Linked DNA regions of Homo sapiens. The protein of the gene in region 4 interacts with the protein of the main gene of each other region in a pairwise test. Each region holds a gene or a part of one and is shown on either strand. Other genes may lie near its edges. The genes, in order: KIF1B, BACE2, NUP58 and KLF3.

Evidence for each region.
Region 1: the proteins of KLF3 (region 4) and KIF1B interact in binary tests that used the Homo sapiens proteins (3 or more experiments, as listed by UniProt).
Region 2: the proteins of KLF3 (region 4) and BACE2 interact in binary tests that used the Homo sapiens proteins (3 or more experiments, as listed by UniProt).
Region 3: the proteins of KLF3 (region 4) and NUP58 interact in binary tests that used the Homo sapiens proteins (3 or more experiments, as listed by UniProt).

Annotation. Positions count from the first base shown.
Region 1 is NC_000001.11:10,360,563-10,367,587, reverse strand, and holds part of KIF1B (kinesin-like protein KIF1B), read right to left. Parts: intron 6,660-7,025; coding exon 6,545-6,659; intron 5,897-6,544; coding exon 5,763-5,896; intron 4,306-5,762; coding exon 4,244-4,305; intron 2,489-4,243; coding exon 2,343-2,488; intron 2,180-2,342; coding exon 1,940-2,179; intron 1-1,939. UniProt on the Homo sapiens protein: Has a plus-end-directed microtubule motor activity and functions as a motor for transport of vesicles and organelles along microtubules.
Region 2 is NC_000021.9:41,276,155-41,283,050, reverse strand, and holds the end of BACE2 (beta-secretase 2 isoform A preproprotein), read right to left. Parts: 3' UTR 521-6,896; downstream 1-520. UniProt on the Homo sapiens protein: Responsible for the proteolytic processing of the amyloid precursor protein (APP).
Region 3 is NC_000013.11:25,311,619-25,318,643, reverse strand, and holds part of NUP58 (nucleoporin p58/p45), read right to left. Parts: intron 5,762-7,025; coding exon 5,612-5,761; intron 5,031-5,611; coding exon 4,893-5,030; intron 3,288-4,892; coding exon 3,177-3,287; intron 1-3,176. UniProt on the Homo sapiens protein: Component of the nuclear pore complex, a complex required for the trafficking across the nuclear membrane.
Region 4 is NC_000004.12:38,659,607-38,667,212, reverse strand, and holds the start of KLF3 (Krueppel-like factor 3), read right to left. Parts: upstream 3,015-7,606; 5' UTR 2,752-3,014; exon of another isoform or gene 2,585-2,751; intron 2,420-2,584; exon of another isoform or gene 2,320-2,419; intron 1-2,319. UniProt on the Homo sapiens protein: Binds to the CACCC box of erythroid cell-expressed genes. May play a role in hematopoiesis.

The DNA.
Region 1 (7,025 bases), on a different chromosome or scaffold from region 4:
ACTCCAGCGTGGGCCACAGAGCAAGACTCCATCTCAAAAAAAAAAAAAATTTAATAAAGATAAAAATAAAAAATAAAAACATCATAGTGATCTCTTGACCTCACAATCCGCCCACCTCAGCCTCCCAAAGTGCTGGGATTACAGGCGTGTGCCACCGCACCCAGCCACCTCTGCCTTCTTTAAAAAACTTTTATCTGGCTGGGCGTCCACACACCTGTAATCCTAGCACTTTGGGAGGCTGAGGCGGGTGGATCACCTGAGGTCAGGAGTTCAAGACCAGCCTGGCCAACATGGTGAAACTCTGTCTCTACTAAAAATACAAAAATTAGCCAGGTGTGGTGGCACATGCCTGTACTCCAAGCTACTTGGGAGGCTGAGGAAGGAGAATCGCTTGAACCTGGGAAGTGGAGGTTGCAGTGAGCCAAGATCATGCCACTGCATCCCAGCCTGTGTGACAGGAGTGAGACTCCATCTCAAAAAAAATAAAATTTTAAAAAGCTTTTATCATTTCTCATCAGATTACTGTAATAAAGATAAAGAATTCTCCCTTCCTCAGTGTATCTCTTCACCATCAATCCATTCTCTTTATTGCTGCCAGAGAAATATATATATTTTTTGAGATGGTGTCTCACTCTGTTGCCCAGGCTGGAGTGCAGTGGCGCGATCTCGGCTCACTGCAGCCTCCGCCACCTGGGTTCAAGCGATTCTCCTGCCTCAGCCTCCTTAGTAGCTGGGACTACAGGCGCACGCCACCACGTTCGGCTAATTTTTGTATTTTTAGTAGACACGGGGTTTCACCATGTTGGCCAGGATGGTCTCAATCTCCTGACCTTGTGATCCACCTGCCTCGGCCTCTCAAAGTGGTGGGATTACAGGCGTGAGCCACCGCCCCTCGCCAGAAATCTTTCTAAAACACAAATACCTGTTTAACATATTTCTGCCTTGCTCCCATCATCCACTCTAAACTCTTCAGTGCAGTATACAAGATTCTTCACTCCACACCTCCTGTTCCAGTCCCACGTGAATTCCCCAAGACTGATCATGCAGGACACCACTGCCTCCCTCCTGATCACGCAGGACACCGCTGCCTCCCTCCTGATCACGCAAGACACCGCTGCCTCCCTCCTGATCACGCAGGACACCACTGCCTCCCTCCTGATCACGCAGGTGTCGACACTGCTGCCTCCCTCCTGCGCATCCTTTCAAGGTCAGCTCATGAGCTCCCCACCATAGACACTTCTCCTCTGACTCCCATAGCATTTGAAACACACATCTCTATTATATGCTTGTGACCTAATATTCTGCAACCTTTATATTTTTTAATTTTTTAATTTTTTATTATTTTATTTTATTTTTTGAGATGGAGTGTCACTCTGTCGCTCAGGCTGGAGCACAGTGGAGCTATCTCGGCTCACTGCAATCTCCGCCTCCTGGGTTCAAGCAATTCTCCTGCCTCAGCCTCCTGAGTAGCTGGGATTACAGGCGCTCGCCACCACGCCTGGCTAATTTTTGTATTTTTAGTAGAGACAGGGTTTCACCATGTTGGCCAGGCTGGTCTCGAACTCCAGACCTCAGGTAATCCACCTGCCTCAGCCCTGCAAAGTGCTGGGATTACAGGTGTGAGCCACCATGCCTGGCCTAATTTTTGTTTTTGTAGAGACAAGGTCTCACTATGTTAGCCTGGGCTTGTCTTTAACTCCTGGGCTCAAGCAATCCCTTTGCTTCAGCCTCCCAAAGTGGTGGGATAATAGGCATCAGGCACTGTGCCTGGCCCTGTAAGCTTGTTGAGGGTAGGAACTGCGTCTTTTTATTTCTACATTCACAGTATTATCACAGGCCTTCAAACACCTCGAACAAAGGTGTTGAAAATGAATAAACCGAGAGGCTAGTTTGTGGAGCCTTGTGGGAAGACGTTCAGCAAAGAGGAAGGGATTCACACCTTGGTAGCCAGCTCTTTCTCTCGGTCCACCAGGCTTTCGATGTCTCCTGAATCATAGCCACTGCTCTCGCTAGGTGTGATGGCGCTTTCAAAGGTAGTGGTTGAGATCTGAGAGGAGATACTGGTGGAGGTGCTGAGGGTCCCACTGCTGAGGCTGGGGGATAACGAGTCGCTCAGGGATTTGGGGATGCTGTCACCAAGTCTCTCACGCAGCAGCAAAAAGTGGCGGGTTTTTTCCACCTGAGAAGATCAATACTACTGCTATAGCAAACACAAAGCTCGTTAAGACCTCAGGAGAGAAAAGTGAAAAGCTATGATCACATGCAGCAGCGGGGAGGAAGACTGATACTTTGGCAATCTTGTCCGAGAGTTCTTGCATCTGAACAACCCTGCCCCTGGATACCTCATGTAGGAGCTCCAGCTTCTCCAGCTCCCACTGGTGCTCAAGGATGAGGCTGTCTCCACGGGGCCGCCAGCCTGCTAAGTTCTCTTCTCCCCGCACATATGCCACTGACGTATCTAAGATTTTTCTTCTCCTTCTCTGCATACCTAAGACAAGAGGAAACAAGTTTTTGTTTCAGAAAAAAAATTCAATTCCAAGTTTAGGTCAAAACGAATTAATAATTCTTTTTTTTTTTTTTTTGAGATGGAGTCTCGCTCTGTTGCCCAGGCTGGAGTGCAGTGGCGTGATCTCAGCCCACTGCAAGCTCCGCCTCCTGGGTTCATGCCATTCTCCTGCCTCAGCCTCCCGAGTAGCTGAGACTACAGGTGCCCGCCACCATGCCCAGCTAATTTTTTGTATTTTTAGTAGAGACCGGGTTTCACTGTGTTAGCCAGGATGGTCTCGATCTCCTGACCTCGTGATCCACCTGCCTCAGCCTCCCAAAGTGCTGGAATTACAGGCGTGAGCCACCGCGCCTGGCCACGAATTAATAATTCTTATACGTAGCAAACTAAGACAGTTTGGTCTGAAGATATATGGGATTTTGTTTAAATAGCAAAGCAACTGAACGTTTTTAAAAACTGAGTTTTACATTCTTTGATAATTATGAAGACTGGGATGCAATTTAAGAAAATGATAAAATTATGATGTTAGGTGAAAATGCAGAAATATTAAATAGTCTGTAGTAGTCTATACACTATGGGGCCGGGCGTGATGGCTCACGCCTGTAATCCCAGCACTTTGGGAGGCTGAGGTGGGCTATCATCTGAGGTCAGGAGTTCGAGACCAGCCTGGCCAACATAGTGAAACCCCATCTCTACTAAAAATACAAAAATTAGCTGGGCATGGTGGTGGGTGCTTGCAAACCCAGCTACTCAGGAGGCTGAGGCAGGAGAATCACTTGAACCCAGGAGGCAGAGGTTGCAGTGAGCCAAGATGGCGCCACCACACTCCAGCCTGGGTGACACAGCGAGACTCTGTCTCAAAAAAAAAAAAAAAAAAAAAAGATCCTGTCCCTAAAAATAAAAATTTTTAAAAAGACGGAAGGGAATACACACACACATACACACACTCAGTAGCTCACTGGCTGACAGATGACAGAGAACTTTAGCCTCTATTATTTCCTGTTAATTTTTTTTAGTATTATGCTGGTTTTACATATTAAATACATGAATTTATATTAATTAAAAAAATTCCTCAAGAAACTATCTGGATAGTATAATAATTAGGTGCTACTTGGATTCATACTCAAAGTCTTCTTTACTTATCTAAGTCTTGCCTGTGGGCCCTGACTTGTTTTCCATGTATATTCTGTAAAATGACTCAAACTCACATTAATCAAATGCTATTAGAAAACCTTAACTTTTGTTCATGTTTCGGTTTACAAACATAGAAATGCTAAGTGCTGCTTAACTCCGCCTAGCTAGAGGAACAAGAGCAGTTTAAAAACACATTAAAAAGAATACAGAACAAATCTGACTTAATAATTTGATTTTTTTTTCTTTTTCTTTTTTGAGACTGAGTCTCACTCTGTCACCTAGGCTGCAGTGCAGTGGCACAATCTCGGCTCACTGTAACCTCTGCCTCCCAGGTTCAAGCAATTCTCATGCCTCAGCCTCCTGAGTAGCTGGGATTACAGGCACGCGCCACCACACCTGGCTAATTTTTGTATTTTTGGTAGAAAGGGGGGCTTCACCATGTTGGTCAGGCTGCTCTTGAACTCCTGGACTCAGGTGATCCACCCGCCTTGGCCTCCCAAAGCGCTGGGATTACAGGTGTGTGCCACCGTGCCCAGCCTAAATACAGGATACTTGAAACATACACAAAGATAACTATCACCTCCTCAATCCACAAGAGCTTACCTGGACTACCTGTGTCTGACATTTTGCATAAGCTGAGTTCGTAAATGCCAGTGACTCGATTCCTATTTGAAGAAAATAAAACAATTGTTTAATCTCTTAAAGCACAAAAACAGGAAAATTTCAATTTCTGCTACTTAAAATAGTGTCTTCTCTGCAGGGACTCAAATATAATTCCAGGCATTTCTTATTTGTCACCGCTCTTTTCTTATTTTGAACCTAAGTAGCATACCTTTTCCTAGAGGAGTCCGCTTTCATCTCAATTTAATTTTTTTATAGATAGGGTTTCCCTGTGTCACCCAGGCTGGAGTGCAGTGATGTAATCACAACTTACTGCAGCCTCGAACTCCTGGACTAATGTGATCCTTCTGCCTCAGCCTCCTGAGTAGTTGGGACTTCAGGCATACACCACTATACCCAGCTAATTTTTAAGTTTTTTTGTAGAGATAGGGTCTCCTTATGTTGCCCAGGCTGGTCTTGAACTCCTGGCCTCAAGTGATCCTTCCACCTTGGCATCAAAAAGTGCTGAGATTATAGGCATAAGCCACCATGCCCCACCTCATCTCTATCTTTTAAACACTTTATTTCAATAGGGTGAATAAAATTGAATGATAAACTAGAAAATTTAAAATATAAATGTGAAAACTAAAAATTTGTCTTTTCTTACTATAAGAGAGACGATATGAGGGAAACAATGACTAGAATGAAATGATAATCAACAACTTCTGGGGATTGTGAGTAGTAGGAGGTATAATACCTTCTATTGTATTAGTAACACTTATTTTTAAGCTGGGCGGTGATACACAGGTATTCATTGTATTGTTTCTTTCTTTTTTTTTTTTTTCCTTTTTCTTTTCTTTTTTTTAAATTTTGAGACAGGGTCTCACTGTTTCACCCAGGCTGGAGTGCAGTGGCTCTATCATGGCTCACTGCAACCTCAACCTCCCAAGCTCAAGTGATCCTCCCACCTCAGCCTCCTGAGTAGCTGGGACTACAGGTGTGTGTCACCACACCTGGGTAATTTTAAAATTTTCTGTGGAGATGGGGTCTGTGTTGCCCAGGCTGGTCTCAAACTCCTAGGCTTAAGCAATTCTCTGTCCTCAGCCTCCCAACGTGCTGGGATTACAGACATGAGCCACTGTGTATGGCCTTCACTGTATTATTCCTGACATATTTTGTATGCCTTAAATATGCATAACAAATCTTAAAAAGAAGAAAATTTCAATGGTACTCTGTTAGAAATAATGATGATGACATTTAAAAGTCTTTGCAAATTTAGTCTTTGCAAAATTGTTTTAGACGTGTTCACAATGTAATATTCCTTCCTTCCCTCATAACTCGTCCATCCATCAACATTTTATTAAATGTCAGCATGCAAGTCAGTACATTCCAGGTGTCAGTTACCAAAATGGTTCATAAACTGTAAACTAACCGTGAGACAGTAAGCCGAGAATACTTAAGGACTAATGATTCTGTTGTACTGAACAAACACACTGGAAGCTAACTTGTGTGAAAAACTTACGAATCTGGTGACTTTGAGTAGCCGCTGCCAAAGAGGCTACGCAGAGAGCGTGGTGGTGAGATCTTGGCATCTCGGGAGTAGAAGACCATGCACACATCCTTGGTGATGACAGCCGGCTGGATGCAATGATCCAGCTGAAAGCAGACAGGGTAGGTGCTGATGAAGTGCAGGCAGAGTACTGTGACTAGAGTCTATACACGAACGTATTTGGAAAGCGAGTCCCAGTTGTGAGAACTGAAGGATTTTAGCTCCACCAATTATTTCAACAGCCACCCAATGGATAATATGTGCAAGAGTAGGTAGTACTCCTTAGAGATGCATTTATTTTTATCTGAGGTAAATGTTGTTTCTCCTGATAGGTGAGGAAACTGAGGCAAAGAGAGTTTCTCCAAGGACATAGAGGAAGTAAGTGGCAGCACAGGGATTTGAACCGACAGGCTGGGTCTTGGGTCTGGGCTATTAACCACTATTACACTCTGTCCACAACTACAAAAACAAGAGGTGACATTTTCTTAAAAATCACACATTCTTCAAACAATGGTGATTAGGCTACTAAAGCTGAAGCTGCAATGAGTCATGTGATTTTTTGAGTAAACAGAACCCAGGAATAGAGTCTAATATAATCAGAAGAGTTAGCAATGTATAATAAAATGAAAAACTTAAGGATGTGGAGGAAGAAAGAGGACAAAACAAGTGGAATCTTCGCTGACCACTTCCTGCTGTAACCTGCACACTGTTCAGGGCTGACTGTTGGCATCAACTGAAGTTCCAAGTCTCCTCACCTCTAGGTAGGCCGACAAGGTCATGTAGATCTTTTCTCCATAGGGTGTCACTCGGTTCAGAAGAAGGGAGTTATGCAGAGAGCTATCCCACACAGCCTCAAAGCGGTAGAAGGTCCTAAGGTCAGAAAGACAAGAGGGAATCATCCAAAAGAAGCTAAAGTCACGTTAGTCCAGGTACTGCCACTGTCAATCATCCTAAAGAACCATACGCCAACCAACAGACACTTTCAGTTTATCAAACTCTAATAACAGAGAGGAACCCTTATCTCCTAGGAGGAAAAGATAGGTCCCCATCCTCTTGCTCCCAACCCCACCCATCATTAAGGAACACTTAGTTGTGCTTTTTTTTTTTTTTTTTTGAGACAGAATTTTGCTCTGTTGCCCATACTGGAGTGCAGTGGCACAATCTCGGATCACTGCAACCTCTGCCTCCCGGGTTCAAGTGATTCTCCTGCCTCAGCCTTCCGAGTAGCTGGGATTA
Region 2 (6,896 bases), on a different chromosome or scaffold from region 4:
CTCTGAGAGTGTGGTTCAGGATGGCGGATGGACCAGAGTGTAGTGCAGAGAAAGAGCTGGGCTGTTGGAGGGGAACAGAGCTGGGTTCCTCTCCACTTTTTAGCTGTGTTTTTCTGGGCAGGTGACTCAGAGATGGTTTCTCGTCTGTGAAATGGTAGAATGCCATCTCCCTGCAGGGTGATCATGGGAGTGACCGCACAGGCATTGCCAACCTGGTCACCCTCAGTCCCCAGGACCAAGCTAAGCCATCTGTCCCATCCTTAAGACCGCTGAAATGTGCTTACTGAGTTTCTTCTCTGCAGGTGTTTTCTTTCCACCTGTAGGGTTTCCAGACTCTAAAGCACTTTACCCTCCCCACCTTCAGCATGTTTTGCATCTTAATGATTGAGCCTGAACCCTCCCTTCCACTCCATTTTATCCTTGACATTTTCCAGGAACCCACAATGAAGGAGTGGACGTAATGGACCGCCAGACATGTGACCCAAGAGAAGTATTTACAAAACATTCCAAAAGCAACAGGTTGGGAGTATTATTTATTCAAATAAACAAAAATGTTTTATTTCCCTTTCAATGGTATATATCTTAAATTGCTGGAACATACAAGTATAAAAATAAGATTATTTTAGAAAACTCCAGTTTTGAAGGGCACGACAATAGTTCAGACATTTGTCAGTAGCTATGAAGCCACTTTTAACATGGAATGAATATCCCTTTACTCCAACTCTTGGTCTTATTACATTTTTAAATCAAATCAGCGTGCTGGAAATAGAGAAAAATTCCCAAAGGGAAATATAAAATAATTTTAAGCATTTTCAGAAATACAAGTTACACTTAAGAAACTTGTATTAAAGGATGTTAATCTGAGATAAACAGAAAACAAACGTTTTGCAAAGCACTACTTTTTGCATCTGTTTGAGGATACACAGTTTGCAGCTCTCCTGCCAGAAGCAAAATACTGACTCTAGCACAGCAGAAAAGGCATCAACTTTAAGAAAAAAATGAGTGGTCGCTTTCAATGACTGAACATAACATATTAAACTTTAAGAATTTTTAACAATGCAAATTAACAGCAATAGTAGAAAATACATCATTTTAGATTACAAAAATTCAGCTTTTATTAGCACATGACAAATCTCATTCATTCGCTGCCCTCTCATATGTGCTGAGTAACTGCTACACAGAATTTCAAACCTCACTGATATAAATGTGAGAGATGACATCTACAATGAGAAAAATGAGGGAAAAAAATCTCGTTTTATACCACTAGCAACAAAGAACACAAAATTGTATTAAATTTGTTAAGAAATGTTATTTTGTGCAATTTTCATGATAGATTAATTAGCTTTGTTCACTTTTTTTCCTCCATCTTAAAAAGAGATAATCTTTTAATGTTTTCTTAACATTTCATTCAGGAACACTAATCTTAGAAATGCGAGGCTTGTGTAAAATTTTACTTTAATAGGCACAATGTAGCAAGCGAAACCATACTCATATCAGGGAACTTGCAATGACCTCCACATATAGCACTCAACAGAAAAACATATGTCCTGACCTTTGGAGACACTTCCCTGCTTATGATATTCTTATCTGTCTGTGCCTTGTGAATAAAAATGCATTTTTATTCCAACCCAAATGAAGAAAATCCTATGGAAAAACATCAATGTCAAAGGCTAGGTTGCCAAGGACACCCAAGGTTTCTAGCCTTTTATTGATACCACGAAAGTGACAGCTGTGCCCAACTTACTGAAGTCTATATTATAAATCTGTCATTTCTAATTATAAATCTACATTGGAAAAAATATTTTACTCAGATGGCTATGTGTGAGGCACACGTGTGTTCTACACAGTTTGGACTTTATCTGGTTGGTCTTACACAAACAATTATCCATCTGTAAAGGGAACTGCTCACTTCTCAGGGCTGCCCTGATTCCCAGAGGAGAGACAGATATTTTACCATCACAGCGTTCCCCAAGATGCTGGCAGAGACACCAGGATGGCTGCTCTCACAATAGTGTCCAAGAAGTACCCGAGGCTCAACGGGGCACCCAAGCATCAGGGACCAGGTACCCGCACGTCGCTCTTGCCGTGGCTGGATTCAAATTTATCAGGAAGCTTTGTGATGTCTCTTGGCCCAGTCACTACCCACGGTGTGCTTTTTAAGCACACAAGTGTGATGTAAAAGTTACACAGTACAATTTAGTTTAGAAGCACTGGACATCTGTGTGTAATAGCTGCTGATAAGAAACCCAGAGGAAGCTCAGGGCAGGGAAGAAAATACTGGATTTATTGCTGGGAGTTACGTATCCCCAACAGCTGTGATAGATTCCAGCCACTGATGCAACCTGAGGTTCGCTGGCAGCACTAAGCAGCGTGGCTATGTTCTGCCTTCCACATTCCGCAGATGTGGCTAACAGGGTGACACCAAGAGCCCAGGGAGCCTGCTCACGTCTGAAAGCCGTGGTTTCTGCTCTGCAGCCTCACCTGGGGAGCTTACTGAAATGCAGATTCCCTGTTCCCTCCTGCACTGACCCTGAATGGGGCTGGGTGTGCTCCAGGACAAGATGGACCTTCCGGGGACGTGGAGCCTGGGGAGCAGGGCTCCCACGCTGACAGCAGTGAGACAGGAGGGAGCTCCTTTCCTGGAAGTCTCTGACAGAAGACATTCTGGAGAAAGAAGCTGTCGGATGTTCGGAATGCATGGGCTGGGCTGGCTCAGCAGAGCTGGCGGAAACGGTGAGGGCCCAGCTGCCGTGCCCCTCAACGACACTGTCAGGTAACTGCTGCCAGGAGCCTTCCAGATGCTCAGACCCCAGAAGCCACTTTACCGGCCCCCTTTGGCCTCAGTTGCTTGACCCTCCCCTACAAATTTCCAGGTGCATGACCTTGAACCTGCCTGTGTCCTGCGTGGGCCTTGAGGCATCTCTAGTTTGATTAGGACAGACGTGTTTTACACATGGCTGTCAAGCAAGTTTCTCTTGGCCTAATTGTTCCTCTGGCAAATAATCAATCCTGAGAAGTTCCTTTACAAAATACCTAAAAAGTAGACTGTGCCAAAAACGTGGGGTGAAATGAGGTGCCCACGGCATCCTGGGGACGTTCTTGGCTGATGCGGACCTCCGTGCCCCACTGCCAACTGAGGGGTGGGACCTCTCTTCTGGCTCCTTCTTGCCCTGCCCTCTTTTCAGATTCTGGAACTTCCCAGGTCCCAGCCATCCTGTACTCTCCATCCGTTGAATGAACCAATCCTTGCTCCGCGTGGGCAACACCCGGGCCACCCAGCCACAGTCTCTCTTTGTCAAAGCTGTCACTTACACATGACTCCCGCTTGAATATTCCTGAAGTTTGGAATTGGTGGATCTGCAAAATAAATCACATCTCCAATGGATTCAGCCACTTTAAGGGGAAAAGAAATCTAAGGATGGCTGGAATGAAACTGCATTTTCTTTCCTTTTTTGAGACGGAGTCTTGCTCTGTTGCCCAGGCTGGAGTGCAGTGGCGCAATCTTGGCTCACTACAACCTCTGCCTCCCCGGTTCAAGCGATTCTCCTGCCTCAGCCTCCAGAGTAGCTGGGATTACAGACAGGCATCACCATCGTTGGCTAATTTTTTGTATTTTTAGTAGAGACGGGGTTTCACCATGTTGTCCAGGCTGGTCTCAAACTCCTGACCTCAGGTGATCCACCTGCCTCGGCCTCCCAAAGTGCTGGGATTACAGGCACGAGCTACCGTGCCTGGCCTAAACTGCATTTTCTAAAAAAATATGTACTGCTTATTTTGTTAGCATACTTTTAATTATATTCTTATTCTTTCTACCCCTCTCAAAATGTATTTTTCCAGCTTGCCATTTAATTGGTAAACAGCTGTAAAGTTCAAACGTGAAATTCTTAAAGCTCCCTAGAGACATACACAATAACTTCTGTGGCATGGACTTTTCTCGGCATTAAAAAAATCTAGTACCTCTCTTGGCCAGAACCCCTAATTTTACACTTTATGGTGTTGCGTCGTTTTTCAAAAAAAACAAAACAACAACCAAAAAACTTACTGGCAAGTTTTTCCTCCAAACAGTTTTCTAATCAAGTCTAATAAGTTTGTGCAAGAGAAAACACATGGGGATTCCACTCCATTATTTGATTTCCACTAATCAGGATAAAGTCTGTGAAATTCAATTACTGTTGTTTGTGGAACAGACTGTTGAACAACGATTTATTCCCAATGATATCGAGTGGCACTAGTCCAGAACTTAGAACTGAACCACACGTGGCAGCTCCACCAAGCAGGGACAGGGAAAGAGGAATTTAACAAGTTTGCACCCGGCGTATTAAATAATTAAATCCCTCTTCACCTCTTAAATGAAATGATGGAATCCCCAACTCACAATTGCTTTTCAAAATCTATTACCCAAAGCACTGCGGAGTCACTAATGCTGTCTTCCTGGGAACTACTTTCACAATTTTGAACAGTAACTGACCCCAAATTTATCTCCAACCAAAACCTCTGTGTTTCACCATGAATCAGGCAAGGTCCTTCCAAGTGTTCAGAAGTGGAACCTGTTGTGGAAAAACACTCCCCTCGGTCACACACAGGGCATCTGTTTCTTGAGTGCTAAGTACTTGGTTTTGGTTCAGGAGAAATACAAAATAGTGTACAGTATATGCTGGGAGATCGGACACCAATCACTTGTGGCTCTTTCAAATTCCCAAGAATAAAAATAGAATTGGTCCCCATCTTGTTTCTTGCTATTTTTAATAAATGGTTTCAGTTACTGAAGGCAGGATTTATTTCAGACTTCCAAAGAAGTTATCAAGGAAATAAAGCAGCATCTATTCATTTCCCATCAGACTTGACAAGGTTTCTGATAACAACCTAATGCTAAGTTGCACCTTTTCAGGCAAGGACCGTCTTCCAGAATTTTCCACAGTGTATTACAAGGTAAAAATGACACCCTCAAAGGGTTGTTAATTCCTTTCCTGTTCCAAGCAAACCTCCTTGAAAGCTTGCCAAGCTAAGCATCAATTTGCATAACTGGAGGAGGTGGGTGTCACTAACAGGGTTTTGACTGGAAGTCCGATTCTCAGCAGCAAGACATGCCAGAAAAATGTCCCACATTCAATTGTCTATCTCATTCTTGTTGCGAAGTTATGCTTTTGTAGTTTCAGTATTTTCATCAAAATGTCACATCCAATGACATGCGATATGAAAAGATAAAGAAATCTGATATGAAATACAGAGCATGACGGCAAACTTCATTCACCTACTCTACCTGGAAACCTCACTTGTTACTTTCCTGTATTTTAAGAACTATGCCTGTTCATCTGCTGCAGGAGGAAGCTCCCCGCCTCTGAAACCTAACACAATACAACGGAACAGAAGATGCCTGTATGAAGAAATAAGCAGGAAAACTAATCAGGGCATGTCTGCGATTCCCTCCTCTTATTTCAGGGCTTTGAATTTTTCACAGCAAGGGTGAAGGCACAATCTAGGGGTGTTGGCTTCACTCCTGTGCAAAGCGGCCCACAAAACAGCAACCACGGAAAAAGCCAATGGGATGAGAATTGGACTTCCAGACATCTCTCCGTGTGAAATGCATTCTGAGATTATGAGTTTTCAACAAGCTGAGAGCGGATGTGACAACGGGCCCTGATACAAGAGCCCCCTCCTCCCGTTCCGTGCCGTCATGTTCTTTCCAAGAGGCTGCAACTCAAATCTTCTCTAGTGAAAACAGCACAGAAGGTTCTTCTGGCTGCTGGAGAGTCTTCCAGGACACCATGACAAGCCGACGTGGCCTCCACGTCTCTTTGGCAGAGTCCTATATTTCTCAGTATGGTGGTGACCCGGGGACCCAGGGAGCAGAGCAGATGGCTGAAACATCCACACGTAGCCTACTGTGAATACAAACGATACTTCTGCAGGAGGGGACACTTAGCACTTTTGGTGGAATTCTGTAATATAGCCAACCCACCCCAAAAAAATGCAAAGGGAACACTGAACTTGGCACACAAGCAGGAGAGAGGGGATACTGTCTTTTAACTCTTCTCCTAATGACATCAGGTCATATAAGGCTATGTCAAGGAAACGGCTTCCACTTTTCTTTGGCAAAGGCCTCGATAAGTGACAGAAAGTAGGGACTGCCCCCCGAAATAAGGCTACCACTGCACAACTGTTACCAAAGATTAAACACCCCCAAAGGAAGAAGCACAGAGGTCAACTGCTGAACAATTTAAGCTGATTGGATGGGTATGCTTGAGGCTAACCAGTTCTGCAAAGGGAAACACACGGTTTCGAAGCACGGGGATAAGTAGACGTTACCTTGTGTCTTCTGCACATCTTGCATCTTCCTTCCCTGACAGCTGGTCAGAAATAGGGGCATCAGGCCATTTCCCTGTTTCCCAACAGGGTAATAGCCAACCTACTTCCAGAGAAGATTTGGAAAAAGAGACAACTAAGCTAGTGAAATAGAATAGTTTTTTCTCATCAAAACATGATTTATTAATTTTAAGCAAGAGTAAGCATATGTGATAGTGGCCAGCTTGGGGATAGAACTCTTCCTGGTTGATGCACAGTTCAGCACCTGTTGGGTCTTGGCTGTTGGGATGATAATTCTTTTGGGTGAGGGGAACAGCCGTGGTCAAGGCTGCCTGCACCCCCATCCAGGCACAGGACCCTGGGCAAAGTCTCAAAAGAGGTAGTGTTTTTACTTTCGCACCAACAATACAACATAAGTATTGGGTACAAAAGAGGAGATTTCCTTCCCCTCTACCTCAACGGGCAAAAGGCCTTCCATCTTCAGAAGAGGCTTGTGAGGACCATCGGTTGATGACCTCCTAGTGAATTCTGGCTCCCATTCAGAGCACAGAGAAACCCACAAAAGGGGCCTGTGGCTCTGGTTCCAGGTCTCA
Region 3 (7,025 bases), on a different chromosome or scaffold from region 4:
CTCATGAGACAAGTATATTTCTTCTTTCATGAACTGCTTACTTGTGATTTGCACACTTTTCTTACGGTATTTTTCTTATATATTTCTAAGAGCTATTTCAACATTAAGTATATTATTTGTCTCATTTACATAATTTAATATGTATTTCTAATATTAGACTCTTGTAAGATGTATCTCAATTTCAGAGATGTTAAAATGTGAAAAAATAAGCACCTAAAAATCAAGCATTTTGGGCAGACTGCTTGAACCCAGGAATTGGAGACCAGCCTGGGCAACAGGGCAAAACCCTGTGGCTACAAATTTTTTTTTTATTTCTGAGACGGAGTCTCACTCTAGTGCCCAGGCTGGAGTGCAGTGGCGTGATCTCAGCTCACTGCAACCTCTGCTGCCCAGGTTCAAGCAATTCTCCTGCCTCAGCTTCCCGAGTAGCTGGGATTACAGGTGCCTGCCACTGTGCCCGGCTAGCTTTTGCATTTTTAGTAGAGACGGGGTTTTACCATCTTGGCCAGGCTGGTCTTGATCTCCTGACCTCATGACCCACCTGCCCCGGCCTCCCAAAGTGCTGGGATTACAGGCGTGAGCCACTGCGCCTGGCCAAAAAATTTTTTAAAAATTAGCTAGGCGTGGTGCTGCGTACTTGTGGTCCCAGCTACTTAGGAGGTTAACGTAGGACAATCACTTGAGCCAGGGAGGTGGAGGTTGCAGTGAGGTAAGATCACACCACTGCATTCCAACCTGCATGACACAGCAAGTCACTGTATCCCAAAAAAAAAAAAAAAAAAAAATCAAGCATTTTACTTTCCTCATTTACCTTTTACCTCTGCACATGGGGTTTTACTTTTTTACCTCTTTCATCCAACTGTAATTTATGTTTCCATGTTTTGTATTTTATTAAGATTTTTTTCTTTCATATTTAGTATCTCTAAAATTGCCACCTATCTTCTATAGACGTCCTAGATTTTATGAGACATGGAAATAAAAATAAGGATTTCATTTTATGTTTCTCCAAATAATTCACCAACTTTTAAATTGACTAGCATATTATTTCTTTGATATGACATTTTATTATATTTTGTAAATACTTACATACACACAAACATGTATATAAAAAAAACTTGAGCCTGTTTCTACCATGGATCCCTGATTACCATGGACCCCCAATTAATCTACCTAGCTTTGCCTCAGTAATACACGTGGAGCTCTACAAAAGCTTCCTAACAGTTCTCCATGACAATTCTTGCCTTCCTGAATGCTATTTTCCATATGGCTGTCAGAATGCTCTTAATCTTAAAATACAAATCTCATCAAATCCCTTTAATAGACCCAAATTGCCTGAGGTATTAATATAATGACAAAACTCAACATGGCAAATAAGGACTCCATGACTTCTGGAACCTCATCTTTCTGCTCTATGGCTAATCTGGCCTTCTATCATTTCCTCAAAAGGGTCAAGGTCCTTCTCATCTCTAGTCTCACTTGACGCTGTCCCCTCTTCACTGAATGCTGTTTATTGCTACTCTCTATCTGGTTAAATCCCACACTGGTACTGCAGGGCCCAAGCTAACTGATACAGCTACTAGAAACACAGAAATCATTTGGATTAAAAAAAAAGAATCCCTTGATATAAGCAATAGATAAAAGGGAACTGGGATGTAGTAATCAGAGATCCATAGTAGAAACACACCCAAGTTATTTATATACATGTTTGTGTGTACATAAATATTTATAAAATTTAATGTCATATCTAAGACATTTATTTCATTTATTGTATATATTCTCCTTGCTCAACTCTATCTTAGGTACACTATGAAAGCAGGAAGATGTGGGGAGGGGCAGAGGAGGGGAGATTAATTTCTTACATTTATCTTACTCTTCTGCCTTAGCCTGCTCTTTGAGCCTAAAAACAATTATAATAGAGAAGTACTCTCATGCTTAAAATAAAAGTAATAGAAGTGGTACCAAGCTATTCCACTTGAGTAAACAAATAAGCTGCTAAGGCTGCTTTCCTAATTATGGAGTTGCTACAGAGAAAACTAAGTAAAAACAAACTTTGTTTAGAAATTTGTCAATTTTCACTGAAAGAGAAATCTAAACTTTGTAAAAGTTTAAAAAGGTTTTACCAACTTTAAAATAGTAATTCACCCTAGAATAGTATCTCCTTATAATAAAACCTGTGTCCAGTTTTTTAAAAAAAAAGTCATATAGATACACAGATACTATTTCACAGCTTCATCCATTTATCTTTCTTCAGAGAAGTTCAATATGTATATATATACCCTAGTATATATGGTATATATTCTAGTGAAACATGCTTTCATCAGAAGCAGAAGAGATGGTGCAAAACAAAGTAACACAAAAAACAATGAAAACATTTTCAAAATGAATTTGGATTAGCAAATTTTTAAAACCAAGATTCAACGTGGCAAGGGCACAGCAAGAAAGGTATTTTCATACTGGTTAGGGGGTAAACTGGTAAAATCTTTCTGGGAAAGCGATTTCACAAACTATACACTAAGAGTCTCCAAAATATCCCTCTCTTTAAGCCAATGATCCAATTTCCAGGTATTTTCCCTAAGAAATAACCAAAAATATAAACAAGCATTGATAATAAAAGGAGACACCTACATGTCTGGCTCTGCTAGGGTTTTACAAATAGTAACCCTCAAACCATTTAACAGATAAGGAAAAACCAAAGCACATAATATAAGTAACTTCAATAAGGTCAGAGAGCTTATAAGCAGTTGAGCCAGGATCTGAACCCGGGCAATTCCACTCCAGAGCAGACACTCTTAAACTACTATATTATGTTGCCTTTTTAGATAAATGCCCAGTGTTTTACTTCCCAAAGTAAAACATCTGGAAATAAACATCTAACAAGAGAACAATGGTTGACTAACTTATCCATCCATAAAACTGATATTAAGCAGCATTAAAATATTTAAAAAGAGTTACTGACAGACAAATGCTTCTGATGTTAGATAAGAACAGACTACAAAACAATACTGCATATGTATCATGATCCCTATTAAAAAATACATATTCGTATACACATTAAGATAGCTAACTGTTACTACTAAATATATAACTGCTAATCTTCCACACAAAGGAATTTTGAGCAACCTAGACATTCCCTCAACAGAACTGTTAAAACATAAAGTTACAACAGCATTACTTACTCTTTTTATCTGAGGAGCTACTGAAATCTATACCACCAAGGCCTTCATTGCCTGCAGTTGAAGTAGCTGCTGTAGTTCCCAAAGTCAACCCTAAAGCATTCTGTCCAAGTCCTATAAATAAAACATAACTTATAAATTCCATCAAAAGACTACAACAATTTCCCCTTACTGATCAAAGGACTCTAATGCTTTTAAAGTTGGATCCTAGATTTTCTTCATATTTGATTTAGGCAAACAACAAGAAACAAGCCTGGAGATGTTTTGGCCAAAGACTGATAACCTTTCTTGAATTCGATGGCATATGCAGTTTGGATGATGCGATTTTTCATTATTACGAGGGCCAGAACATATATCAATTCAGTATGTAGGCACTCAATCTTCACTTGTTATAAAGGGGTTTTGTTACAGAGGGCTTTTAAACCCTCTCTACAAAAGCAGTTTCAGTTGGTGTATTTTCAGGTGAATACATCTTGTCTTACAAACACACTTTGGAACTACATACTTTTAAGATAATCTAGTGTGAATTTATAACATTTGAATATAACATGTATTGAATATAATTTCATACTCCCAAGTTCGTTTCACAAAACTTAAAAAAAAGTATTAGAATTCATTTGCTTATTTACATCTTCCCTCACTGACAAAAGGAATAAAAAGGACCAGACTACGGTTAATCATAAGTCATTAACGTACACTTGTGAGTCAAGCGCAAAATTTCAAGCATCTTGTGTTGATAAATCTGTATTTCTTTTTTATTGTTATTATTGTTTTTGAGATGGAGTTTCGCTCTTGTTGCCCAGGCTGGAGTGCAATGGCATGATCTCGGCTCACTGCAACCTCTGCCTCCCAGGTTCAAGTGATTGTCCTGCCTCAGCCTCCCAAACAGCTTGGATTACAGGCATGCATCACCATGCCCAGCTAATTTTGTATTTTTAGTAGAGATGCGGTTTCACCATGTTGGTCAGGCTGGTCTCGAACTCCTGACCTCAGATGACCCACCTGCCTTGGCCTCCCAAAGTGCTGGGATTACAGGTGTGAGCCACCGTGTCCAGCCTAATAAATCTATACTTTTATAAGACCATGCATTACTGAGCTAATACAATTTTTGTTCTTTTTAGAAGAGATGTTATCTCTAGATCAGTTTACTGACTCCTTAAACAGGCTCTTCTTTGTTTCCTTATCTGGTTAGTCAATATTGAGAAAGAGGAAAATGTATTTCTAAAATATGGCTAATAGGCTGGGTGCGGTGGCTTACGCCTGTAATCTCAGCACTTTGGGAGGCCAAGGCAGCCGGATCACTTGAGGTCAGAAGTTTGAGACCAGCTTGGCCAACATGGTGAACCCCCTCATCTCTACTAAAAATACAAAAATAAGCCAGGTGTGCTGGCACACACCTGTAATCCCAGCTACTCAGGAGGCTGAGGCAGGAGAATCTCTCTTGAACCCTGGAGGTGGAGGTTACAGTGAACCAAGATCACGCCACTGCACTCCAGCCTGGGTGACAGAGCAAGACTCCATCTCAAAATAAATAAATAAATAAATAAAATACGGTTAATACATCCAATTATGTATGAAAACCATCATTTTATAATTTAGTTTTCATATTTAAAGGAAAATATGCAGATTAAAAAGTGACCTGCTCAAAGTACTAAAATAAAAATAAGTACATTTAAATATAAATATTTACTATTCTGGAGAATAAATACCATCAATTACCTGATGTTCCTGTGTTTGTACTCTGGAAAAGTGAACCTCCCAAACCAGCTAAGGCTCCCCCTAAAGAGAGGCCTGTTGATGCAGTTGTAGTTGTGGCTGTTGTCCCACCCAAATTATTTAGAGTAAATCCTGTGGATGCTATAAAAAGAGAGATAGTAAGCTTTCAAAAGGCAACTTATTTAACAGCACCATAGAAAAATACAAATACGATGTTTTTAAAAACTGACATCCATGATAAAATTGGCTCTTTGGAAGAACTACTTGCTAAAAATTACATACTTAAGAATAAAGAGAAATAGCAGCTTCAAAGCAAAAATCTGCGACAGAAATAAGGGCTTTGAGGAGTATTAGAATGGTACCAGGTAACTGATTCTAGATAGCAATATTGTCTTCAACCCAGGCCACCAACTTCACCTTCATATTAAATGAATCATAAGCCAGGCAAGGTTTATGCCAAGTCTTTGTCTTCCCCTGTCACTAAATGCCTCCTTCAAAACAAAGTCAATATTAACAGCTTTACATTTTACCTCTCTAGCCCTCTCCCCTGCTTTGCTCTCTAAATAGGGACATCAAGACAGCCTCTCCTGCTTCAATGCTCAAAGCTGAATTTTCTTCTTTATAAATCAATAATTTCTGTAGTAAGGTGACTATCTATGTTCTCTAACCAGATAAAATTGAAATTTAACCATTAAATGCAACGGTTTTTCATTCTGCCTCACCTGCTGGAGTTGATGTCAGAGCAGACGAAAGAGTCAGACCGCTAGCTGAGGTAGAGGTAATAGGTAGAGCAAATGGTGTGGCAGATGCTGCAGGTTTATTGAATCCTAAACTGAAGCCTGTTGTAGCTGCAGATGTAGTGGCTGGCGTTCCTATTTAAATAAATAAATGAATAAACAAACAAACAAAAATCCTACTTTACCTGTAAGTGTTCTATTATACTGGTTTCAATAAGGATCCTTAAAAGTTCATGATACTACCTTTTGCCAATAGAAGAAGGGTGTATCTGTGAGAGAAAATATGTAAAAGTTGAGACTAAACCATGGTGAACACAAAAAAGATGGCTCTTTAAGAAAAACAAAAGAATGGCCAGGTACAGTGGCTCACGCCTGTGATCCCAAAACTTTGGGAGGCCAAGATGGGCAGATTGCTTGAGGTCAGGAGTTCAAGACCAGCCTGGCCAACACGGTGAAACCCTGCCTCTAGCTAAAATACAAAAATTAGCTCAATGTGGTGGTGCACACTTGTAACCCCAGCTACTCGGGAGGCTGAGGTACGAGAGTCACTTGAACCTGGGAGGGGGAGGTTGCAGTGAGCTGAAATCGTGCCACTGCACTCCAGCCTGGGAGACAAGAGTGAGACTCTGTCTCAAAAAATAAAAAAACAGAAAAGAAAATCCAATCGATGTAACATATCAATTTTTATTCTACTCCTAGATTTACCTCTAATGCAGCATTTATCCTCCTCCTTTCCCTCTCAGCAGAAAAATGGTCCCTCCTCTCTAATACTCTATCAATAACCATTCTCTATTCCTTTCTTCTGGCCCTTGTGTCTCTGTCAGCCCCCAGCTGTCTCCCTATTCCTTTTCAGTCCTTTTTTTCTGTAGCTCTCTTTCCTCTGTTCATGTCTTAACTGACACTTCCTAGAGTTCCATTCCTACCTCCTTACTTCCCCAATGACACACCCACTTTCATCATTTCTCCTACAGGTGATTAAGTCTAAACTGACATTTACCTAAGTCCTCATTGTCTAGTTCTATCTTGATGTCCCTTTGGCCTCCTACATATCTCACCACAAACATTTTTTGCTATATCTCCAACCTTGCTCAGTTCAATTGCTTAAGCCAGAAACCAGTCATCCTTGACATCCTTTCCTTCTCCTGTACTCCATTAGTTACAAATCCTGTCGATCCTACTTCAGAAATATCCTGTACTACAAGCATCCTTAAAAACCTTAGCTTAGGCCATATCTCTCTTAAGAACTACTACAACAGCATTTATTTCTCTGGTATCAGTCTCTTCTAACCTCTAATCTATTCTTAAAATTATCTTGGTTACCTTAAAAAAAAAAAAAAAAAAAAAGACAGGTGCCGTGGCTCACGTCTGTAATCCCAGCACTTTGGGAAGCCAAAGTGGG
Region 4 (7,606 bases):
CGGCCCTCCCTGACCCTATATTCATGAGCAGCTGGAGTTTTTTAAGACAACAACAGGGGGGTGGAGGTGTTTGTTCTACGGGTGTGAATAATAACACCAGCTTTATACAGGGGACCTGCCCTATTTACAAATAAGAGCTGCCACATACAGTAAACATCATAAGTGAAATGTGATTTTATCATATTCAAGCAGCAGAGACCTTCCTAATGAACACTAGCCTCCCTCCTGATTTCTTTTGTCCCTTTCTGCCCCATTCCAATGGCTAGTCCCTAGCTCAGATCAAATTCCGAGTTAGGGTAATGATTATGGTTCAGCCTCAGTGCATCAAGAGGAAAAAAGATAGAGCACTGCTGTTAGGAATTCAGATTACAATTGGGGTACCCCACAGAACCAAAATTGGAGCAACTGTAAGCCTCCTTTAGTCACAGAACTAAATTCCAAGACAGACTGTGGGACATCTACAGTAACCCAAAATTTTCACTGTCTTTTTCAAATGCAGTTATACACATCTTTGCAGAGCTGCTCATCTGTTCAACATATACACACGTTTATAGAAATTCGCCTTTTAAGAATGTGATTCTGTTCCTGACATTTATCTAAAAATTATTATGCAATCTGTACACCAGAGTACTAATTTCTAGAAGTCATTCTAAAATGTCTATTTTCCCTTTGGGTTATTTTTAAGATAGTAAAATCCATTCACAGTTCCTTTCCCATTATTTCTCTTTACTTTGTTAGCCAGGACTGTTTAACTCAAGCTTACGTTATCAGAGATTTAAGAATGTGGTGTGTGCAGACTAAGTACAGGTAAGGAAAAAAAAAAAGAAAAAAAAAGGAAAAAAAGAGCATCACTGTGCCCATAGCAACAAGAAGATTGGGTTTTAATTTAGAAACTTTGCAGTGAATAAAACAATAGCTTTCTGCAAAACTCTGTTGTCGTTTTGTACCTGACAAGGTTTTGTGGTCTAAGCAGTTACTTTTCTTTGTTATTCCCATGTTGAGATTTTTGTACTTGCATTCCCTTTCATGCAAGCTAAATGTTCTTTACAATGTATCATCATTGAACTTACCGATAGTACATTAGGTTTTTTTCTTCTAATAAATAGTTCTGCAGCAAAGCCCACTGACTGCAGAAATGAAGATACCAGTTTCTCTAGGGAGTTTAATTTAATCGAACATCTAATTTCAGGTTTCTATTAACAGCCTAAGGTCAACTAACATACCTCTTTTCAAACCAGAAGAAATCACTCGTGGACACTTTCCTTAAACACTATTACTAACTCCAAAAAATTTGTAGATATTAATGCTAGCAGATTGTTTTTTCCCCTAAAAGCAAGTCTTCTTCCCTAGGGTGAGGCAGATCATCCAGATGAATTTCTCTTATAAAAATGCTCCTCAAATTCGTACAGAAAAGGATAGCACAAAACTGCTGTGTGGAAAAACCTATAATGAACAACTGGCCTATTCCCCACTTGATTTTGCTGGCACATTTCAGGTACTTGTCAGAATACCACTTCATACTTTTTCCCATATACCAGACTCTTGTGAGAATATAATCAATATATTTAAAATGTCTTGGGTGATATTAATGGAAACATAAATTCTGAGTAAGAAATTCAGTGGTTAAGTGTAAAATGTTTATTTTAGTGAAATACAAGAAGGTGAGCAATTTCCAATTTCCGTTTAACTTGACTTATTAAAAATAAGTCTCATTCACATTCTTCTAGTATTATTGTATACTGCTATAAAATTTAAACCAGAAAAGTGCTTCTCCTTGTCAGTAGCTATCTGCCCAAAAAAATGAATATGACAATTCCAGATCTCATCTGCCATCTCTAAGAAAGCCACTTGGAAATGTTAGGTAGGTCCCATGGGTCCTGATCCAGGGATCTGTCCCTGGGTCCCCATCAGGCTCGGCTGCAGGCAGTTGCCTAAGGCGTCTTCCGCCTTCAGCCACGCTGCAATCCTTGCTCCAGGCACTGCGGCAGGTTCTCTCCATGCCCCCAGGAAGACTCTCCAAACCCGACCAGCTCATTTCTCCTGCCCCGGAGGATCCAGACGCCCTGGCAGCTCCTGGGCTCCAGAACCGAGAATGGGATGCTGCCTCCAATCCCAATTGCCCTAAGTTTCTTTCCAGAGGGCCGGGAGACTGCTCCAAGTTTGCTGTGGCGGGCGAGCGGCCGCGCGCCGTGTCCTGGGAGGGGGGCGGCGGGGGGCGCGGGCGGAGGGAGGGGAGGGGAAGGACGCGGGAGCCTGGGTTGTGGTGGTGGTGGGGGGGCACCGGGAGGGGGAGGAGCAGGAGCGCGCGGCCGCGGCGCTACCTTTCTCCAAACAACGTTGCCACACGCGGAGAGCACGGAGATTTCTGGGGCTTTGGAGGGAATCGTGAGCGGGCGGGAGGAGGCCGGGGACCACACAGGTGAGCCCCCGCCCGCGCCCTGCCCGGGACGGCGGCGGGCGCTGCCAGCCCCGCTCCCCCGCACCCGGGGTCCGCACGGTGCCTCGCCTCAACCCCTCACTTTTCACCGCGAACCCGTGACCCCCTCCTCCTTGCTTGCTCTCCGCCCCCACCCCGGCTAAGTGTAGCCGCCACACTTTCCCAAGCCCGCAGGCGCCCCCCCCAACACCAGCGCTGCACCCCCGACCCATTCCCCGCGGCCCCCTCCAGGAGAAAAAATGAAACCAGACTGGCCGAGGAGGGGGGCGGCAGGGACCAGGGTGCGGAGCAGAGGTGAGGGAGACGGGACTTACTTTGCGAGGCGCGGTGCAGGGCGCCGCCGACGAGAAATAAAGGCCCCGATACGGGCTGCCTGGAGCCCCCCGAGCGCAGCAATGTCAGGGCTCCAGTCCGGGCGGCGTTGGCGGCCGCAGGGGACGGGGACGGGCGCGCGTGCGGCGGGCGCTCTCGCTGCGCTCCGGCTCGGGCCCCGGCTCCGCGCGGCTCCGCTCCTGGCTCCCCTCTGGCTCCTGGCACCAACTCCGGGCAGTCACATGACGCCGGCGCCGCTCGCTCTGCGAGCCTCCCGGGGCTGGCGGGGTAAGTAGAGGCTGGGACCCGGGGTGGGAGGGTCAGGGAGGGGAGAGGGAGCCGCCGCGGCCGCCCGGGCTGGGCGGGTCCCCACCCACTTGGGTGGAGGCAGCCGCCGGAGGGGTCGGCCGAGTCACTCGCGCAAACACGCACCCCGCCCTGCGCCCTTCCCCCGCCACCCCCGCCTCCCGCGCCGCCTCCGCCCCGCCCCGCCCAGTCACCCGGGGACGGCCTGACAGACACTCATTATTCCCCGGAGCCGGGCGCCGCCCCGCCGGCCCAACCTGTCCCACGAGGCGCGGCGCGGCCGTGGGGCTGGGCGTGCGCGGCGCGGCCTCCGCCCCCCGCCCGCGTCCCCGCCCGCGTCCCCTCCCCGCGCCCTCCTCCCCGGAGTCCGCGCCCCGCCAGCCCTCCCGCCCGGCCCAGCCGCCGCGCCGCCGCCCGAGCCCGGGGGGAAGGAAGGGCGGCGCTGCCCGCTCCGGGCGTCACACGGCTGCGGCCCGCTGCGCTGCTTCCAAAACACACAGCCGGGCTCGCGGGCGAGCCGAGGCGGGGGGCGCGGGCTGCCAGGGCCATCGATCAGCCGGCTCCAGCGGGAAGGGCGGCCCCGGGCGCGGCGGGAAGGGCTGGGCCCCGCGGCCGGCGCGGCGCGGCGCGGCCCCTCCTCGGCTGAGCGCACTCAGCTCACTGCAAGAGAAAAGCCGAGCCGAGGCGGCCGCGGTGCAGGAGCGAGTGGGCCGGGCGGGTTCGGGAGGGGAAGAGCGGCCGCTGGGGCGCGCCGAGCCTCCCTGGCCCCGAGTCGCCGGGGTCAGGGGACACCCTGTAGGCGCGCTCTTTCTTTGTGCCCTGGGGCGACGGGTCCCCCTGGCCGGCGGCCCAGGCGGCGCCCCCCACCTCGTGGGACTTTTCTTTGAAGGCCCGGAGACCCCTGGGGCAAAACTCCCACGGGCCAGGCCTGCCGCTGGAGCTAAAAAGCGGCATTTGCGCAGTTGGGCTTGCCTGGAAACTTGGCAAACTTTGGTCGGATCCTCCCCTGCAGAGCGAGGGCCTGGCCTGGCGACCCCCTCATTTCAAGTCGCTTCTAGGGACCTAGCGCCCTAAGCTCAGTGGCCTTCAGGGTGCTGCGAGCGAGCGGGGCGGCACAAAAGCGCGTTCGGTCCAAGCCAGGCCCCTTCGAGGACTTTGTGTAGATTGGTACCTAAGTTTAATGCCTTTTGAGTTTCTTTTTAAACAGTATTAATGTAATAATTAATGTAATAAAAAGAACAAAGGACGAATTCGTTCGATTGTTTTAAGTTCTGTGTAATGTTTAAAACCGCCCCTGCTTCAGTGTATGGCTTATTATTGCTTCAAGATGTTTTAAAGGCCCTTTAAGTTGACCCATCTCGCTTTGATGCTTCATCCAGACATCGTGCTGCTTAAAACGGAGTGATAATAGTATATTTCGAGCCGCTTCATGTAGCTACACAGTATTGTAAAATTAGTACTCGGTAACCTCAAGTAGTGAAATCGCATATTTTAAATAACGCAAGTCCAGGAAAGGCCACGTGGAGGATACCCAGAACCGACGCCGGCTCATGGGACGTCGTGCTGTCCCATAAGCTTCATCTTTAAAATGTAAAGGGTGTGAGTTTTTTTTTTCTTCATAATGAATAAAAGACATTCCAGAAAAAAAAAGAGTTGGATTCGTGTCAATTACTAATTGCCATTTATTGATCACTGACATCATTAAATGGCTGATTGGCTGCCTTAAGGTTTGCATTAGCGGAACACCGTGCTAGGAATGGCTGGTGAAACTGGCTCATAGTAGGTGCTCAAAAAAGTACGTTTTTTTCTCCAGGGACACAGTGACGAGAACTTGAAGCACATAAACCATGTTTTTTACCTTGTTCATGTGGGTGTGGACGCAAAGGGGAAGAGCGAAATAGGCCTGTCGGAGAAAAGTGTGACCCAAGATAAGAAGGGAGTGGTTTTGATATGGAAGGGGCAGGCGGCAAAGGAGAAGAAAAGCCATTTTAAACAGTTAATTAGTGAACACTGTGTTCGGTGCCCTGTGGGAAGCTGCTCAAATGCAACTTGTCGGAAATGAATCTATCTAGTGCTGGGTAGCTCAGTGAAGGACACCATCATTCTTCAAAGTGCCCAACAGGGTGGGGCGCGGTCGCTCACGCCTGTAATCCCAGCACTTTGGGAGGCCGAGTTGGGTGGATCACTTGAGGCCAGGAGTTCGAGACCAGTCTGGCCAAGTTGGCGAAACATCGTCTCTACGGAAATTACAAAAATTAGGCATGGCGGCGCACGCCTGTAATCCTAGCTATGTAGGGAGGCTGAGACAGGGTGATTGCTTGAATTCAAGAGGTGGAGGTTGTAGTGAGCTGAGATCATGTCACCACTGAACAGAGTGAGACTCTGTCAAAAAAAAAAAAAAAACCAAAACAAAACAAAAAAAAAACAAAACCCCAACAGAAGCACCTAAGCCTTTCTTCTCGCTAGCAGGGCATAGCCCATGTTTCACTGAGTCCTGGACCTCCTTGGTCACTACCCACTCTCTGGCCACTATGCTGGCCCAGCCTGTTGCCACCATGTCTTGTTGGTCATCCTGTCATCCTGTTTGTAGTATGGGCTGAAGCATGAAAAAGGCATTGGAGCACGGGAGTAAGAGTGCCCTTTCCAAAATGCAAGCCTGATCGTGTCAGTCCCTTCAATGGCTTCCCATAGGATGAAGTCCTAAGCTTTCCACCCCTGCTGGCCTGGCCTCTGCCTGTCATTACAGACACTTCTTCCTCTTCTCTCTTCCTACTCTTTTCCAGCAACGCTGAACTTCTTTCCGTTCCTTTCTTCCAACTCTCTCTTCCCACCTCTGGCCCTTTGCACATGCTCATTTTTCTAGGTAGAAAAGCCTTGTCTTCTCAACCTGACCTCTACTCCCATTTCCCTAAATTCTATACATCGTTTCAGTCTTGACTTAAATGACATTTTCTCCAAATATGTATTCTCTCACTGCACCTTTGGACAAGTTGAGGTGCTCTGGTAACATCTAGTGGGGCGTGATGGGAGATGTTTGGGTCATGGGAGTGGATCCTCCTATTTCCCCTCTTGTAACACTTTCCGTTCTTGTAGTTGGCTATTTAATGATCTCTCTGTGGCACTAGACTGGAAACTCTATGAGGGCAGGGACCTTGTCTTTTCAGCAAAAATGTATTCCCAGGGCCCAGATGTTCAATGAATATTTGTCAAAGGAATAAATGTGGTTTATGAGTTGCGAGGAGGGAGGAGTCATTCTGAGCTGAAGAGGTGAGTGGGGGCTATAGGGAGGCAAGTGGCAGTGAACTATACCTCCATCAGTCCAGGGGCTTTGAAATGGTGAAGAGGAGGGAAGAGGGAGTTACCCCCCCTGAGTGCTTTTAAGCAACAGAGTGAGATAGTAAAAGCGATGCCTGGGTCTTTTTAAAATTCCTAACACTAGCACAGTGCCTGGAACATGGTCAGGTGTTCAGTAAATCCTACATGACAATCTCAAGTGTGATCTTTGTGGTAGCTGCTTTGCGCTTTTTCCTTGCTGACAGCAGGCCAGTCTGGTTTAGGTGTGGGAAGCCTATCCTCAGTGGAGGATACCCATGCCTGGTCCCAGCAGAGGAACCCTGGTTACTCCCAGCCAATCCCAGTGTCTTTTGCCAGTGACTGGTTGGAGGGTAGGTATGCAACCTAGTTCTAGCAAGTGGGACATGAAGGGAAGTGTGCTGGGGTTTTTTTCCTGATACAAGGAAATCCCCAGACCTGCTTTGGAAGCTGTTAGGTGAGGATGTGATGCTTGAAGCTGTAGTAGCCATCTTGTATTCGTGAGAGAAAGCCAACGTTTCCGTTTCCATGTGGATAGTTTTTTTTTTTTTCAAGTCATTCTGTTTTCAGCTCAAATGTTGCCTCCTCAGGAATGACTTCCTTGACCACACAATTTAAAACATACCCCCCTTCCTCTTTGCTATGGTTCAGATATTTGTCCTTTCCAAATCTCGTGTCAAAATTTGATCCTCAGCGTTGGAGATGGGGCCTGATGGGAGGTGTTCGGGTCATGGGAGTGGATCCTTCATGGATAGATGAACACTCTCCCTGAGGATGGGGAATAAGTGAACACTTCCTATGTTAGTTTCGGAGAAAGCTGATTCTTGAAAAGAGCCTGGGCTAGGCCTGGTGGCTCACGCCTGTAATCTCAGCACTTTGGGAGGCCGAGGTGGGCAGATCACCTGAGGTTAGGAGTTTGAGACCAGCCTGGCCAGCGTGATGAAACCCCATCTCTACTACAAATACAAAAAAAGATAGAAGCCAGGTGTGGTGGTGGGCGCCTGTAATCCCAGCTACTTGGGAGGCTGAGGCAGAAGAATCGATTGAACCTGGGAGGCGGAGGTTGCAGTGAGCTGAGACTGCACTGTTGCACTTCTGCCTGGGCAACAAGGGCAAAACTCTGTCTCAAAAAAAAAACAACCGAGCCTGGCACTTCCCTCCTGGCTCTCTTGTTTCTCTCTTGCCCTGTGATCTCTGCACACACTGGCTCCCCTTCACCTTCTGCCATGCAAGGAAGGA